Homo sapiens: one gene and its partners. The protein of the gene in region 1 interacts with the protein of each later gene in a pairwise test. Each region holds a gene or a part of one and is shown in the gene's direction. Other genes may lie near its edges.

Region 1 (4,260 bases):
CATAATTATAGACACTATGTGACTATCAAGGGCATAATATTCTTTCATGCTGCATTTTTATTAGATGGCACCTCAAAGTTTTCCCAAGTAGGTGGGTTTTAAATTATGAATATATACCGTGGCATAGTATCTTACTTAGTATTTTAATAAGATCCTTATTTATATAACAAATATTTTTTTTATTCCTCTGTAGTGCTACTTTAGTCTCTGAGCTAATTTTCATGAAGCCAATCTAAAAATCGTGTTACTTCTAAGGATGTGGAGCGAGTGAGATGAACAGTTGTGCTGTCATATTGCCCCTCCCCAGTGCAGACAGTGAATGAGGACCCACTGATTTAAAGGCAACACTGCAGCCCCTTCTTGCCTCATTGAAGTCCCAAGTTTTATTACAGTAAAAGCACTTAATGTTGACATTTCTGAAAGAATGAAGAGGCCGGGCGCGGTGGCTCACGCCTGTAATCCCAGCACTTTGGGAGGCTGAGGCAAGCGGATCATGAGGTCAGGACATCGAGACCATCCTGGCTAACACGGTGAAACCCCGTCTCTACTAAAAATACAAAAAAATTAGCCGGGCGTAGTGGCGGGCGCCTGTGGTCCCAGCTACTCGGGAGGCTGAGGCGGGAGAATGGCGTGAACCCGGGAGGCGGAGCTTGCAGTGGTCCGAGATTGTGTCACTGCACTCCAGCCTGGGCGACAGAGCGACAACGTCTCAAAAAAAAAAAAAAAAAAAAAAAGGAAAAAAAGAATGAAGAGCCAGAGCCAGGCATAGTGGCACGCCTGTAGTCCCACCTACTCAGGAGGCTGAGGCGGGAGGATCACTTGAGCCCAGGAATTCAAAGCCAGCCTGTGCAACATAGACCCTGTCTCTAAAAATGAATTGGTTATAAAGGATGAAGAAAGGAAGGAGGAAAGGGAGAGAGAGAAGCCCTTATAGAGTGGGTGCATTTCTTGTATGTGGGGCCACTTTGTAAGAACAGGATTTTTCAAACTGGGCCCATACTGGTATGTGTGAAATCAATTTAGTTGGTTATGGCCATTTTTTTTTAAAAGGAAATATCAGTGATCACTATAGTGTAAGTATATTGTTTCGTGAAAGCCATCTTAGTTATGTATTATGTCTGTATGTGTAAGATTGTGATATAAAATGTATTTCTGTGGTTAAATATTCAAAGAAATTGGAGAACCATTGCTACAAGGGGACAGAGGACTCCGTGTGAGCTCTCCTGCCTTCCCTGAATAAACTTACACAATTTAGTGCTGGGACATTTGAACCTTTTCTGAAAATTTGAGTCAGGGGAGAGCATCTTGGGGAGGTGGGAAGGAAGGTAGAAGGAGCAAAGCAACACCCCCCTGAAGCCTGGGAATATTGTCAGAACCTTAAATATAATTCAGCTCACCATTCTGGGTAAGGACAGACTCTACCAATGAAAATGGGTGATTACCAGCTGTGAAACACAAAAACATACTTTTACGGTTACACATTCCTTTACAAACAACCGTGTACATTTCAGCCTCCTGCCCCACCATTTCTTTTCTCCAGGAGGGAAGGCTGCATGTCGAGATGGTCGTAGAATGTTGAGTATCCTACTTTCCTACCTCGCTTTTATTTGCGCGGGTTTAAATGCGCCTTAACAGAACCCGTGCAAAGGCTTGCCTACTTGTCTGGCTGCACCGGATGAGTAGAGCATCTTCCTTGGTGGCAGGTGGGTGCGAGGAGGAGGGGGCTGGGCTTTTCTCCGGACGGTGTTTGCCCAGAAGACCATCATCCCTGGACTACGTTAGGAGGAAGTGGCACCGCTCCGAGGTAGGGGAAGAAGGGTTATAAAGGGGGGAGTCCACCACACATGGTCTTGAAGAAGCTTTTATAAAAGGCAAAGGCATCTTTGCCGGACGTTGTTGCAAAGGAGTAGAAACAAGCAGAGGAAAACATCCCAAAGGGTAACCACTAGCGTTCCTGCTTCTTGCAACATTCATCCCAGGCTTCCAGCTCAGCCCGCCCCGGGCCAGGTGATCGGCCGCCACATCCCCTGCGACTGAAGCACCTGCTCCGCCATGAACCTGCCAAGAGCTGAGCGCCCTCGCTCCACACCGCAGCGCAGCCTCCGGGACTCCGATGGGGAAGACGGTAAAATCGATGTCCTGGGAGAGGAGGAAGATGAAGACGAGGTGGAAGACGAGGAGGAGGAGGCGAGCCAGAAGTTCCTAGAGCAGTCGCTCCAGCCGGGGCTGCAGGTGGCCCGGTGGGGCGGGGTTGCGCTTCCCCGAGAGCACATCGAGGGCGGCGGCCCGAGCGACCCCTCAGAGTTTGGCACCGAGTTCAGGGCACCGCCAAGGTCTGCGGCGGCCTCTGAAGATGCCCGGCAGCCGGCAAAGCCCCCCTACTCGTACATCGCGCTCATCACCATGGCCATCCTGCAAAGCCCGCACAAGCGCCTCACGCTCAGCGGCATCTGCGCCTTCATTAGTGGCCGCTTCCCCTACTACCGCCGCAAGTTCCCCGCCTGGCAGAACAGCATCCGCCACAACCTCTCGCTGAACGACTGCTTCGTCAAGATCCCCCGCGAGCCGGGCCACCCAGGCAAGGGCACCTACTGGAGCCTGGACCCCGCCTCCCAGGACATGTTCGACAATGGCAGCTTTCTCCGGCGTAGGAAGCGTTTCAAGCGCCACCAACTGACCCCGGGAGCCCACCTGCCCCACCCCTTCCCTCTACCTGCTGCACACGCCGCCCTGCACAACCCCCGCCCAGGCCCTCTGCTTGGGGCCCCTGCCCTGCCGCAGCCAGTCCCGGGGGCCTACCCCAACACCGCCCCCGGGAGACGCCCTTACGCTCTGCTGCACCCGCATCCTCCTCGCTACCTACTGCTCTCGGCCCCCGCCTATGCCGGGGCACCGAAGAAAGCAGAAGGCGCGGACCTGGCGACCCCCGGCACCCTTCCCGTGCTGCAGCCCTCACTTGGTCCTCAGCCTTGGGAGGAGGGCAAGGGTCTGGCGTCGCCACCGGGAGGCGGATGCATCTCTTTCAGCATTGAGAGTATCATGCAAGGGGTCAGGGGAGCGGGTACAGGGGCTGCGCAGAGTTTGTCCCCGACCGCGTGGAGCTACTGCCCCCTGCTCCAGCGACCGTCAAGCCTGTCGGACAATTTTGCAGCAACAGCAGCAGCATCAGGAGGAGGACTGCGCCAACGGCTGCGCTCCCACCAAGGGCGCGGTGCTGGGCGGGCACCTGTCGGCCGCGTCGGCGCTGCTGCGGTATCAGGCGGTGGCAGAGGGCTCTAGGCTGACATCGCTGGCTGCCCCTTTGGGCGGAGAGGGGACCTCACCAGTTTTTTTAGTATCGCCCACGCCCAGTTCCCTGGCCAAGTCCGCAGGGCCCTCCTAGAGCCAGGTGGGAGTGGGGAGCGATCCGCAGCTGCTCACTCCACCTTGCGCGGCCCATACTGGGCGTGTGCATCTGAATCCTGCTGGAGAGCAAACACGAACTTCTGTTCCCTGCAAAATGGTTAGAAAGAAACAGCTGGATTACGTTCCTCTAAAAACCACCTGAACGTAACCTTCGCAGGGCGTCAAGTCATCTTTTCTTGCCTTCGGCTGTGGCTTCTGTGGCTTTCCGGATTTGCACATTTCCTGGGGTACTATGAACGTGAGTGGGGTATTTTGTTCTGGCATTAGAAGAAAAACAAGCAAGCAAACAAAAACACAGCCTCCGATGCCAAACATGTTCCCCCTTCTTCACTTCCTTGGAACTGGAAGTGTTATTCCTAAGTCTAGTGCAAAATGCTTCTACTCTCTGTGTCTTCCTGATAGGGATGTTTAATGTAAGTAGGATATTAATTTCAGAACATTGATTTCTTATCTGTGTGTCTGACGTGCCATCTTTAATGTTAAAATTAAGGTGTTAAAATTAAGCCTAGTTATATAGACGAAATAAAATGCTAAGTCACTACACTACATCGTTATTTTCTATTACGTCTCATTCTTCCCTTTCTAAATGGAACTTTTTAAAACCTACATTATTTTCCCTCAAACAATTTATTTTCACAATTCATATTTATTATAGATAGCAGAAGTAATCCATTTTAATATGGCCTTTAAAAATTCCAAATATTTGAGGTTGAAAATGTCCTGGCTTTTAAAATAGGAAATTTACTATTTATGAGACTTCTAAAAGAAAAGAATAGGAGGGCATGTAAATATATTCTCCATTTATTTTTCCTCACCCCCCAACAAGCTGGAAAACCGTTTGAGATCAATTTGGAA
Region 2 (3,165 bases), on another chromosome or scaffold:
CCTTTTGTGTTTAATTCTATTTTAGCTTGTCTGGGTTCTATACTGTGATCTCATTTGCCTCGACTACGATGGAAACATTTTGGATGCCTGCACATTTGCTTTGCTAGCGGCTTTAAAAAATGGTAAGCAGCCTTACAAAAAAGGCAATATTCCCACTCATGGGTTAGAATGTTGTTTTGTGAAACTTTTAATGTACATTTGCTTTCGTATGCTTCCAAATTAATGAATGTAATGCTGACATGACTTTCCAAATATAGTTGATAGTTGTATATTCTCTAACTGAATGCTCTTTAGAGTGCTGCTTTGACTGTACCCATCTACTTAAGTTAGGACTTCAGTCCTTTCCAAAATAGTGTTAATATTGGTGGGAGAAGGAGACAAGAGTTGTAACTTCTGGCTAGGTGATTGGTGAAGATCTGCCAGTATCCTCATAGTTCTTTATGTGATATTGCCAAAAGAAGTAGAATGGATTCTGTTGTTTTTACTGTGAGGCCATAGTAATAGGGAAGTTTCTTAGCAAGGAGTCTAGGTTGACTGATTAGTTACAGATTTCAATAACTTGTGCATATTCCCTATCATTGATGAATGATGAATTGGTAGGAACAAATAATTGGAGGTGGAATATAAAGTTAGCACAGCAATATTATAGTAGAGTGGTTAAGTGAATTGGAGGTAGAAAATGAAGTCAGCAAAATATTATAATAGACTGGTTAAAGTAGATTCCTGGCTCTCTCACTCTGTGCTGAAGTTTCCTTATCTATAATAAAATAGGGATAATAGTACTTACTTTGTAAGAGTATTGATTAGGTGAATACAATGAAAATATGAAAATGCTTAAAACAGTACCTGGCAGATATAAATTTAAAAAAAAATCATTGACTTCTTAAACTTAAAAAAAAATTATGCAATAAGCACTAGGTAGGAATGTCAGATGTTGTGAAAAGCAATGTATATCCTCTATATTTACCTTAGTGGCTGTAAGGTGCTTTTTAAAAAGAAATGTTCTGGGCAAGTTAAATAGAGGGAAAGGTGAATTAAAAAAAAAAAAGCTTAGAAATCATTTGTTTCTTAGAGACTTACTTACTTTACAAATTTGCCTTTTCTTAGTACAGTTGCCTGAAGTTACTATAAATGAAGAAACTGCTTTAGCAGAAGTTAATTTAAAGAAGAAAAGTTATTTGAATATTAGAACTCATCCAGTTGCAACTTCCTTTGCTGTGTTTGATGAGTAAGTTAATCAAACTTACTTTAAAATTTTCTATATTTAAGATTAGGGTAATTGATGTTCAGCATTCTAACTCTTTAGGAAGTGCTATGGTGACCCTACATCCTAGTTTTCCCTGGACACTTGAGTTTCTACTTGTCCCTGCACAATTATTTCTAGTCACTGCACAATTATTACCTGTTCCTTGGTTTACTTATACCTGTGTAATGTTAATTTCCAATTCTTTCACTATAAGATTTATCTGAAGCTATCTTCAATATTTTCCAAGGATTTTAGCACGTTCAGAAATAGAAGAGCAGGGCCGGGCATGGTGGCTCATGCCTGTAATCCCAGCACTTTGGGAGGCTGAGGCAGGGGATCACCTGAGGTCAAGAATTCAAGACCAGCCTGGCCAACATGTTGAAACCCTGTCTCTACTAAAAACACAAAAATTAGCTGGGTGTGATGGCGTGTGCCTGTTAATTCCAGCTACTTGGGAGGCTGATAGTATGTTTAGTATTTTAAAGTAAAATTTGTTCCATGGATTGATAACTTATATTTTTTTCTTTTTATAGCACTTTGCTTATAGTTGACCCTACTGGAGAGGAGGAACATCTGGCAACAGGAACCTTAACAATAGTAATGGATGAGGAAGGCAAACTCTGTTGTCTTCACAAACCAGGCATGTTCCCGCCACTTCAGTCCTAAACATATGTAGATGAAAACTCAGTGTGAGCCTTAAATTAGGGAGGGCCAAATAGAATATGGGATATTTTATTTACCTAATTTTAGTATAGTTTCTTAGCTACCTAAAATGTTCTTCCATCTTAATGGTATATGTCAGTGGTTCTTAAACTTAAGACATACATTAGAATCACTTGGAGGTCTTGTGAAACTAACTTGTAGATCTTGAGACTGTACCCTGATTTACATTATCCAATTTTTTTGTTTTATAATTTGACATGACATTAATGTTTTTTGAAAAGGAATGATAACTGAGATTAAAAGTATTGGCAAAATAATTTTTCAGGTGGAAGTGGGCTAACTGGAGCTAAACTTCAGGACTGTATGAGCCGAGCAGTTACAAGACACAAAGAAGTTAAAAAACTGATGGATGAAGTAATTAAGAGTATGAAACCCAAATAAACAGCCACCACATTTTCAAAACAGATTTGTAAAAATTGTATTTGTTAACACTGTGCACAAACGTTTTATACTAAATAAATATCAAACTACATTCTTCTGAAAGATGTTTCTATTATTTCTTAGGTCACTTCCATATATATTATGTATAGTGAAACCATTTTTAAAAAGCAATGACTTAGGCAAACCAACCCTAGTTTGTTAAACCATTTCCCTGTTTTTATTTAAAAATGATAAGGTTGTGCTTCTGTATAAAGTTTGTACATCTAGCAATGTAAAATACTGACACATTAAAAAAAACAAAAAGTAGAAACTCAATTCTTTTGATTCAGTGCTCTTGTGTTTTTAAAAAAGGAACAAAAAGTAATGCAAGACTCAAAATTTTGGAGTGGTTGGCGTGCCTCTCTTCATTTTACTTTTTGACTGGCTGCCTGTATGCCGATGATGATGTAGCTGAGCTGTTTGTGCTGCTGCTGCTGCCATAGCCATTTGATGCTGCAAGAATCGCAACTGCTGCAAAAGGGAGGGAAAAAAATCGAGTTATGTTAAATGCAGGCAGGTGTAGAAAGGTGCTTTTCCTGAGTGACGAAACAACACAACTGAAAAAGGGAGAAAGCACCAAGATAACAAAAAGGGACTATACCACATTGAGACAATGCACAGTCAAACAGCACCAGTGGCACAGAAGCCTGCTAAGGGCTTTAAAAATGATTCTTGGCAAACTTCAAAATTATTTGTTACTTTGCCCTGCCAGTCTATATTGTAGTAACTCAGCAACTTCAGTTACCATTTTGTTGTATAATGATGGTTTATAGCAA
Region 3 (3,987 bases), about 84 Mb from region 1:
ACCTCTCGAAACCCACCAGTCCCAGAGGCCGACTCTTCTCAAGTGGAGGAGAGGGGAAGGCGTGCATGGAGCTTTGCCTGACCGCTCGCTCTCTCCTCCCCAGCCGTCTGAGAGAAGGCGAGAGGGGTCCCAGAACCGAGCCCTCGCTCCGCACGCCCCACGCCCGCCCCGCTGTGCCGTGCGCTCTGCCCCTGAGACGCCCCGGCTCGGAGTCCCAGGGCCACAGCCGAAACTCGCCCTCCCGCGCCCCTCTCCGGCTTGCAGCGCCCGCCCGCACCGCCACCTGCCACCCGAGGCGACGCAGTCCGCTTCTCCCCACCCGCCAGGTGGCAGGTTCAGGGCCGGGGTCCGAGCCTGCTTCCCTGCAGCTGCCACAGCCACCCTCGCCGCCAGGGGGCGAGAGTCCCAGGCAGGACAAGCAGCGCTGCTGCCTTGGCGTGAAGGTGGTTTCAAACTTTAGGCTTCTTTTCCCTACCCCGCGTCTCTGAAGAGCAGAGAGGAAGATGGAAACCGAGTCCGGGCCGGTGAGTACGGCGATCAGGGCCCCAGGGCGCGGGATAGCGGGGAGAAGGAGCAGCGTGGAGCCTGTCCCTGAGGGCTTGGAGGGGCGAGGTGAAGGCCCCAAACGCTCGCTATCTGGTTGGGAAGAAACGTGGCCAGGTGCCCCATCGACCGCTGCCAGGAGCCACCCGCCCGCAGACCTCGTCTGGCTGTGTCATGGGGGTCAGAAAGGCGCCGCCACGGGGCCTGGACTGGGTGTAGACGGGCCAGGGGACCTCAGGCGTGGATGTTTCGGGAGGCGGCGGGCTGCCAGGCACCCAGCGAAGTCCGAGCAGGTAAACCGCTTTCCCGCCGAAATTGGGCTAGGCAGCGTCTTTGACGCTCCCTGCGGCCGAACTCGACCCAGCCGCCCAAGGCGAGGAGTTGCCAGGGCGGTCGACGCCTCCACTCCCCGACTGGTCAGCGAGGACCGGAAGGTCTGAGAGACCTGGCAGGGCCCGCCTGTGGCCCAGGCGGGACCCGGACACTCTAGCCCTGGCTGTGCACCCAAGCCAGTCAGGGTGGACTTGGGGAAGTGAAGGAGGACTGCCCGCACAGGCCCGAGGCGCAGCGGCAACGTGCCATCCCGCCCCGCCCCGTCCCGCCGCCAGCAGCCAATCAGGGAGCGCCGCGCGAGGGTGGGGACCAGCTGCGCACGAGGCCAGCGGCGGGGTCGCTGCCGTTGAGGCTTCCCGCCACTGCTGCTGGCGGATTTGTGGGGCAAAATTTCTCGCTGGCTAGCCTTCTTTTCCCTCCCGCACTTTGGTGGGGAGGGGGTGGATCCTCGTTTCGGTGCCCAAGTTCACGATGACCCGAGAGAACTCGAGGAAGTTGTCGCCGCGGCCATTTCCCCCAGTGCCGCAACTTGCTGGCCTTGGAGGGGGAGGAGCGCCGAGGCAGTGACTGCGACGGTTAGCCCGCCCGTTCCTGCTGTCTTCGTTTGCAAAATAGATGCTAGATCTCGAGGTTGATTCTCAAGGGGAGGGGCCAGTGAGGGCACATTGCTTTGGAGGAGTAGTTTAATAAACTCTCTAGTGCTGGAAGTTTTAGCAAACGGAGGAGCCTTCAAACCCGGCAACAGTCCCCATCTAGGTGTTTCCGTAACACATGCGGAATTATTGCTAGTGGAATTTCAGGCTTTCTTTGTTGTTTAACTCAATGCATCGCTAATTGTTTATAATGAACTTAGATGTTGCCTCCACCTGAGCCTTGCTATTGCTAACATTAAAATATTTTGTAGGCCTGGCGCGATGGCTCCCGCCTGTAATCCCAGCACTTTGGGAGGCCAAGGTGGGCGGATCACGAGGTCAGGAGATCGAGACCATCCTGGCCAAAATGGTGAAAACCCATCTCTACTAATACAAAAAAATTAGCTGGGCGTGGTGGTGCGCACCTGTAGTCTCAGCTACTCAGGAGGCTGAGGCAGGAGAATCTCTTGAACCAGGGAGGCGGAGGTTGCAGTGAGCCGAAATCACGCCACTGCACTCCAGCCTGGCGACAGAGCAAGACTGTCTCAAATATATATATATATATATATATATATATATATATATATATATATATATATATATATATGTATTAGACTGCTGTTATACTGTATTCTTTAGCCTTCAGCCTATTTGGCATATCATGAGCAGGTCTCTCCTGAAGAAATGATTCACTTTTAGTCATTCAACAGATATTTATTGAGCACCTGCTGTGTACTGTCAGTACTTTAGATGCTGCCATGAAAAAAGCAAAACTTCTGCCCTGGTGCATTACATAATAGTGGAGACAGATAATAAACATACTAAGTAAACTATATCGTATGTTAGAAAATGATGAGGGAGAAAACTTAAGCAGAGCGAGCCCACAATAGAGCCTTAGAGAGTGGAGGAGAATGAAGTGAATTGAGTGTGAAAGGTTGTTTTTCTTTTCTCAGGGAGTATCCTTTAGTTTCTCGAGATTGGAAATAAAGCACTGTTTACTTCCGTTCATTTCATCCTTCTCTCAATGAAATATAATGGGGTTTGTCTTTTACTTAAACTTGCGAACATATTAGTACATCTTATTTTCAATAAGAGAATTTCATGAAGAATGATTTTTTAAATTTAGCAAATAGGTAATTTTGACACTGTAAACAAATGGGCAGAAAGACAAGATTACATCTACTAGAGCTGTTATATTATCTCTAGCAATACAAAATCCATAGTTGAAAAATACTAAGCATTCCAGAATTACCCATTCTGAGCATTATATCCTACTGAGCGAAGTGACTGAAGTCACAAATAACCTCCAAGTGCCCAGAGAGAAAGCTGTTAAGATTAGATTCCCAGTTTCTTTCATTGGAAACTACAACATAGTAATTATTAAATGTGGTGGCTTTTCTGTGTTTTAAAAGAAGTATTTACATATTCCCTTATTAGGAGTACATACTTCCTTAAGGCTGGATGGGGAAGAGAGCCCATAAGGTCCAGCCTATAGCCCAATTGCCACTCCTGCCCTAGTCATTTCTCTGTACATCTTGCAAAGATTAATTTAGGGATTGTGATTGTATTGGCCAGAGAAGAAAGAGCAGAACAAATTTGAAAAAGAACAACTTTATTACCTGAGCTGGAGATTCATTTTCATGAGTTTGTTTCTCAGAGAATTGGAATTATGAACTTCAAGCTTTTGTTATTTTCTTTTTCTTTCTTTTTGAGATGGGGTCTTTCTTTGTTGCCCAGGCTGGTCTCGAACTCCTGATCTCAAGCAATCCTCCTGCCTCAGCCTCCCAAGCAGCTGGGATTACAGGCACAAGCCACAACACCCAGTTTACTTCAAGTTTTTTGAAGCACACATTTAGGATATTATGGGGTTTGTCTTTAGGATATTATGGGGTTTGTCTCAGAAGTGTGTTTAGTGTTTCCAGATGGAAAATAATTCACCAGTTCTTGAATTGGTTTCTCTTCAATGTGATTCTCAAGTCTTGGGTTTTTTTTCAGTTATACCTTAAAAGTCTATTATCTTACCATTCTGCAAAGGCTTATACATTTATATATATTTATTAAAATTTAAATTATGTCCTCTAACTTAGAATTGTGAACATGTGGATATGTACTGAGCTAATTCTTTGGAATAAACATTTATGAGCTACAAGTATATAATTTTTTAACAAAATCAGTCCAATCTTCAAATTGACAAGTGCATTTAAAATTTTGACTTTCAGGCTGAAAATGGTGAATGTGAATGTTAGAGTTTATTAACTTGTCGATGACCATTAGTTAAAGACCACCAGGAACACATGCGTCATTTAGTAAAGTTGGGTCTGTTAATTGTTCAAACAAGGGAAAACATAAACCATGGGGCCTCTCAATCAGAAGGTGTTAGAACTTACAGGATATAGGCTTCTGTTGAGCAATTTCTAGAGAGGGTTTAAGGAAGTAGGGCTTTACTCTGGAATGTATAGCGTCAGGAAATGGTAGTAAT
Region 4 (3,500 bases), on another chromosome or scaffold:
CTAGGTTCAAGCAATTCCCCTGCCTCAGCCTCCTGAGTAGCTGGCACTACAGGCATGCGCCGCCACACCCAGCTAATTTTTGTATTTTTGGTAGAGATGGGGTTTCACCATGTTGGCCAGGCTGCTCTTGAACTCCTGACCTCAGGTGGTCCACTCACCTAGGCCTCCCAAAGTGCTGGGATTACAGGTGTGAGCCACCGCGCCCAGCCCCAGAGCTCTCAGTCTTAACCGCACATTTTGAAAATTGAAAATTACAGATAGGAGGTCTTACAATATGGATTGCCCTGAGGAGGTGCACAGCAGAAGGCGTGGTCAGGATGCCAAGCCAGGGGAGTCATTTGTGGGGTCATGCCCTCTACCCTGTGTCTCTTGCAGCGGTCCCAGTCTCCAGCTGCCTCTGACTGCTCATCCTCATCCTCCTCGGCCAGCCTGCCTTCCTCCGGCAGGAGCAGCCTGGGCAGTCACCAGCTCCCGCGGGGGTACATCTCCATTCCGGTGATACACGAGCAGAACGTTACCCGGCCAGCAGCCCAGCCCTCCTTCCACCAAGCCCAGAAGACGCACTACCCAGCGCAGCAGGGGGAGTACCAGACCCACCAGCCTGTGTACCACAAGATCCAGGGGGATGACTGGGAGCCCCGGCCCCTGCGGGCGGCATCCCCGTTCAGGTCATCTGTCCAGGGTGCATCGAGCCGGGAGGGCTCACCAGCCAGGAGCAGCACGCCACTCCACTCCCCCTCGCCCATCCGTGTGCACACCGTGGTCGACAGGCCTCAGGTACGGGAAGTTAGTCGTCAGCAGACTGGTTATGGTGGTATGTCTCCAGGGGTGCAGGAGCTCTGTGGGTGCCCTGGGTTCCCCCTTCATCCCTGCCTATTTAACATGCGTGTACCTACAGGCAAGTGAGATTCGAGAAATTGCTAGGTATTAACAGAAATGCAGGACAGTTGCTCAGGCTGTGAACCCTCCGCACTCTGCAGCTTTTGCTGGGCTGATCATTGTGCATTGCGGCTGACTTAGAGCAGACGAAACAGCTTGGCAGAACTTACATACCTGGGACCAGCTTCCTTAGTGTCCACCACACCCTTTCAGGGCTCTTCACACCCCCATCCACACCGCAGCCACAGCCTCACCTTGGGTGTAGGCAGTGTGTCACCTTCCACTCAGTTACCCACTCCACTCTGCAGGCCCATTCTGCTCATTCCCACCCCTGTGCCTTTGCCCATGCTGAACCCGCTCCCTGAAATGCCCGCACAGTATAGGTTCTCCCTGTCCTCTGAGGGACGAGCCAGTCTTGTCTCCTCCATGAAGCCTACTCATCCTTCTCATCTCATGATGCCTCATATGAGTCCCTTAATGAGAACTCCCAACTTGTATGAGTTCAACATGTCATTATTCGGGGCATTTCAGAAGTGTTCATTTTATCTCTTCAGCTTAGGGCTGAGCCTGACCACAGGGCCCATGTCTTAACCCCCCTCCTCCCTTTGTAATCAGGTACCATGTGGTCTGGCTGAGGCATCAGCCAGCTATGGCGGATTGGAAGCCGTGCTGGCCTGGGGAAGGTTGTAGGCAGGGGTCTGGTTATCTTCCAGTGGAGACACAAGGTGCAGGTTCCTGGAAGAGGATGTCATTTAGTTTAAGCAGCTCACAGCTTAGCAGCAGGACAGTCAGCAGCCCTGGGCCCCCTGTGGCTGCAACTTGAGCAGCTGAATGCTACAGTTTTTAAAAAGGAAAGCCCCCCGTGAACAAATGTGGGATATTCTTTCATTACAAATGGTCACACTGGCCAGGGCCCTGGAATAGAGCACCCTCATCTTAAAATGTTGTTTTATTTGGAAATAATTTCAATCTCATAGAAGAGTTGTGTGAATCATACAGAGCCCCACATATACTTCATCCAGTTCACTGTTTGTCAATATGTCTGCATTCGCCTTGTCATTTCTTCTCTCGTATATTATTGATGTGTTTTAACTGTTTGAAAATTAATTGCAGACATCATGTCCCTTTTCCCCTGAATAGCAAATATTTTCCTAAGAGGAAGACATTCTCGTTCATAACCATGGTAGACTTACCAGATTCAGGAAATTTCACATTCTTACAACATTATTATCCAGTACATTTTTGAATCTTTTTTATAGCAGTTTGCCCCCACTTCCAGGATGTCTTCCAGGACTGAAACAAGGATCATGAGCACCGCATTTAGATGCAACTTCTCTTCAGTCTTCCCTCAGCCTTTCTTTGCTTTCACGGCCTTGACGGTTTTGAAGAACACAGGCTGTGGAACACCCTCTCTAAAGTGTTTCTAAAGTCACTTCTTACACAGCCATTGCTGTTAGAACCTAGGAGGGGTGCGTGGTTGGGTTGTGAGTGGTAAGGGCCAAAGTTGCGAATGTCTGCATTGGCGAAAGAGATTTGATGGAAAAGGAGGTTGCTGGAGTGTAGACAGCTACATCGATCCATACTTGGGTTCAGCAATCCTAGGAGGGTCCCATTTGTAGAGAGAGGGATATTTTCTCCACATCATTCCCATGTGTTTCTCATCATCAGTGAAATGATATTTCATCCTGTTCTTACCATTAACCGTGTTTGTGGTGACCTCCCTTTTAGAGCTGATTCAAAGTTCCCTTTTGGGAGGCTTTCCAGGATTTCACCAAACTGAACGTTATAGTGGAATTGAGTGTTTTAAGCTGGGAATAGTTTAGAAATAATATAGTCCAGTTATTTCCCAGTTGATGAAATTAGGGTGAGATTTTAAAAGAAGTGTTAGATATTCACTTACATGAATAAGAGCCAAGATAAGGCCAAGCGCAGTGGCTCACGCCTGTAATCCTGTAATCCTAGCACTTTGGGAGGCCGAGGCGGGGGTATCACTTAAGGTCAGGAGTTCAAGACTAGCCTGGCCAACATGGTGAAACCCCATCTCTACTAAAAATACAAAAAAAAAAGTTAACCAGGCATGTTGGTGGGCGCCTGTAATCCCAGCTACTCGGGAGGCTGGGGTGGGAGGATTGCTTGAACTTGGGAGGCAGAGGTTGCAGTGAACTGAGATCACACCACTGCACACTCCAGCCTGGGTGACAGAGCGAGGCTCCGTCTCAAAAACAAAAACAAAAACAAAAAGCGTCAAGATATTTTTGCTTTGAGCATAGCTCATTAAAAAATATATGGCTTACTAGGCGTGGTGGCTCACACCTATAATCCTAGCACTTTGGGAGGCCGAGGTGGGCAGATTGCTTGAGCTTAGAAATTCAAGACCAGCCTGGGCAGCATGGTGAAACCCTGTCTCTACAAAAAAATAGAAAAATTAGCCAGGCATGATGGTATGTGCCTGTAGTTGCAACTAATCATGAAGCTAAGGTGAGAGGATCACTTGAGGCCAGAAGGTTGAGGCTGCATTGAGCTGTGATAGCCCCGCTGCACTCCAGCCTGGGCAACAGAGTGAGACCCTGTCCCCCACAAAAATCTATATATCTATATGGCTGTAGTTTATAGTCACAGGA

The links. The genes of interacting proteins can lie anywhere in the genome.
Region 2: the proteins of FOXD4L1 (region 1) and EXOSC8 interact in binary tests that used the Homo sapiens proteins (3 or more experiments, as listed by UniProt).
Region 3: the proteins of FOXD4L1 (region 1) and BOLL interact in binary tests that used the Homo sapiens proteins (3 or more experiments, as listed by UniProt).
Region 4: the proteins of FOXD4L1 (region 1) and BAG3 interact in binary tests that used the Homo sapiens proteins (3 or more experiments, as listed by UniProt).

Annotation. Positions count from the first base shown.
Region 1 is NC_000002.12:113,497,205-113,501,464, forward strand, and holds FOXD4L1 (forkhead box protein D4-like 1), read left to right. Parts: upstream 1-1,460; 5' UTR 1,461-2,052; coding exon 2,053-3,279; 3' UTR 3,280-3,946; downstream 3,947-4,260.
Region 2 is NC_000013.11:37,006,950-37,010,114, forward strand, and holds the end of EXOSC8 (exosome complex component RRP43), read left to right. Parts: intron 1-25; coding exon 26-122; intron 123-1,107; coding exon 1,108-1,228; intron 1,229-1,779; coding exon 1,780-1,886; intron 1,887-2,234; coding exon 2,235-2,350; 3' UTR 2,351-2,665; downstream 2,666-3,165. Other genes in the region: SUPT20H (transcription factor SPT20 homolog), read right to left, coding at 2,723-2,860. UniProt on the Homo sapiens protein: Non-catalytic component of the RNA exosome complex which has 3'->5' exoribonuclease activity and participates in a multitude of cellular RNA processing and degradation events.
Region 3 is NC_000002.12:197,782,520-197,786,506, reverse strand, and holds the start of BOLL (protein boule-like), read left to right. Parts: upstream 1-1,187; 5' UTR 1,188-1,451; exon of another isoform or gene 1,452-1,491; coding exon of another isoform or gene 1,492-1,506; exon of another isoform or gene 1,507-1,875; coding exon of another isoform or gene 1,876-1,878; intron 1,879-3,987. UniProt on the Homo sapiens protein: Probable RNA-binding protein, which may be required during spermatogenesis. May act by binding to the 3'-UTR of mRNAs and regulating their translation.
Region 4 is NC_000010.11:119,671,880-119,675,379, forward strand, and holds part of BAG3 (BAG family molecular chaperone regulator 3), read left to right. Parts: intron 1-375; coding exon 376-777; intron 778-3,500. UniProt on the Homo sapiens protein: Co-chaperone and adapter protein that connects different classes of molecular chaperones including heat shock proteins 70 (HSP70s), e.g. HSPA1A/HSP70 or HSPA8/HSC70, and small heat shock proteins (sHSPs), e.g. HSPB8.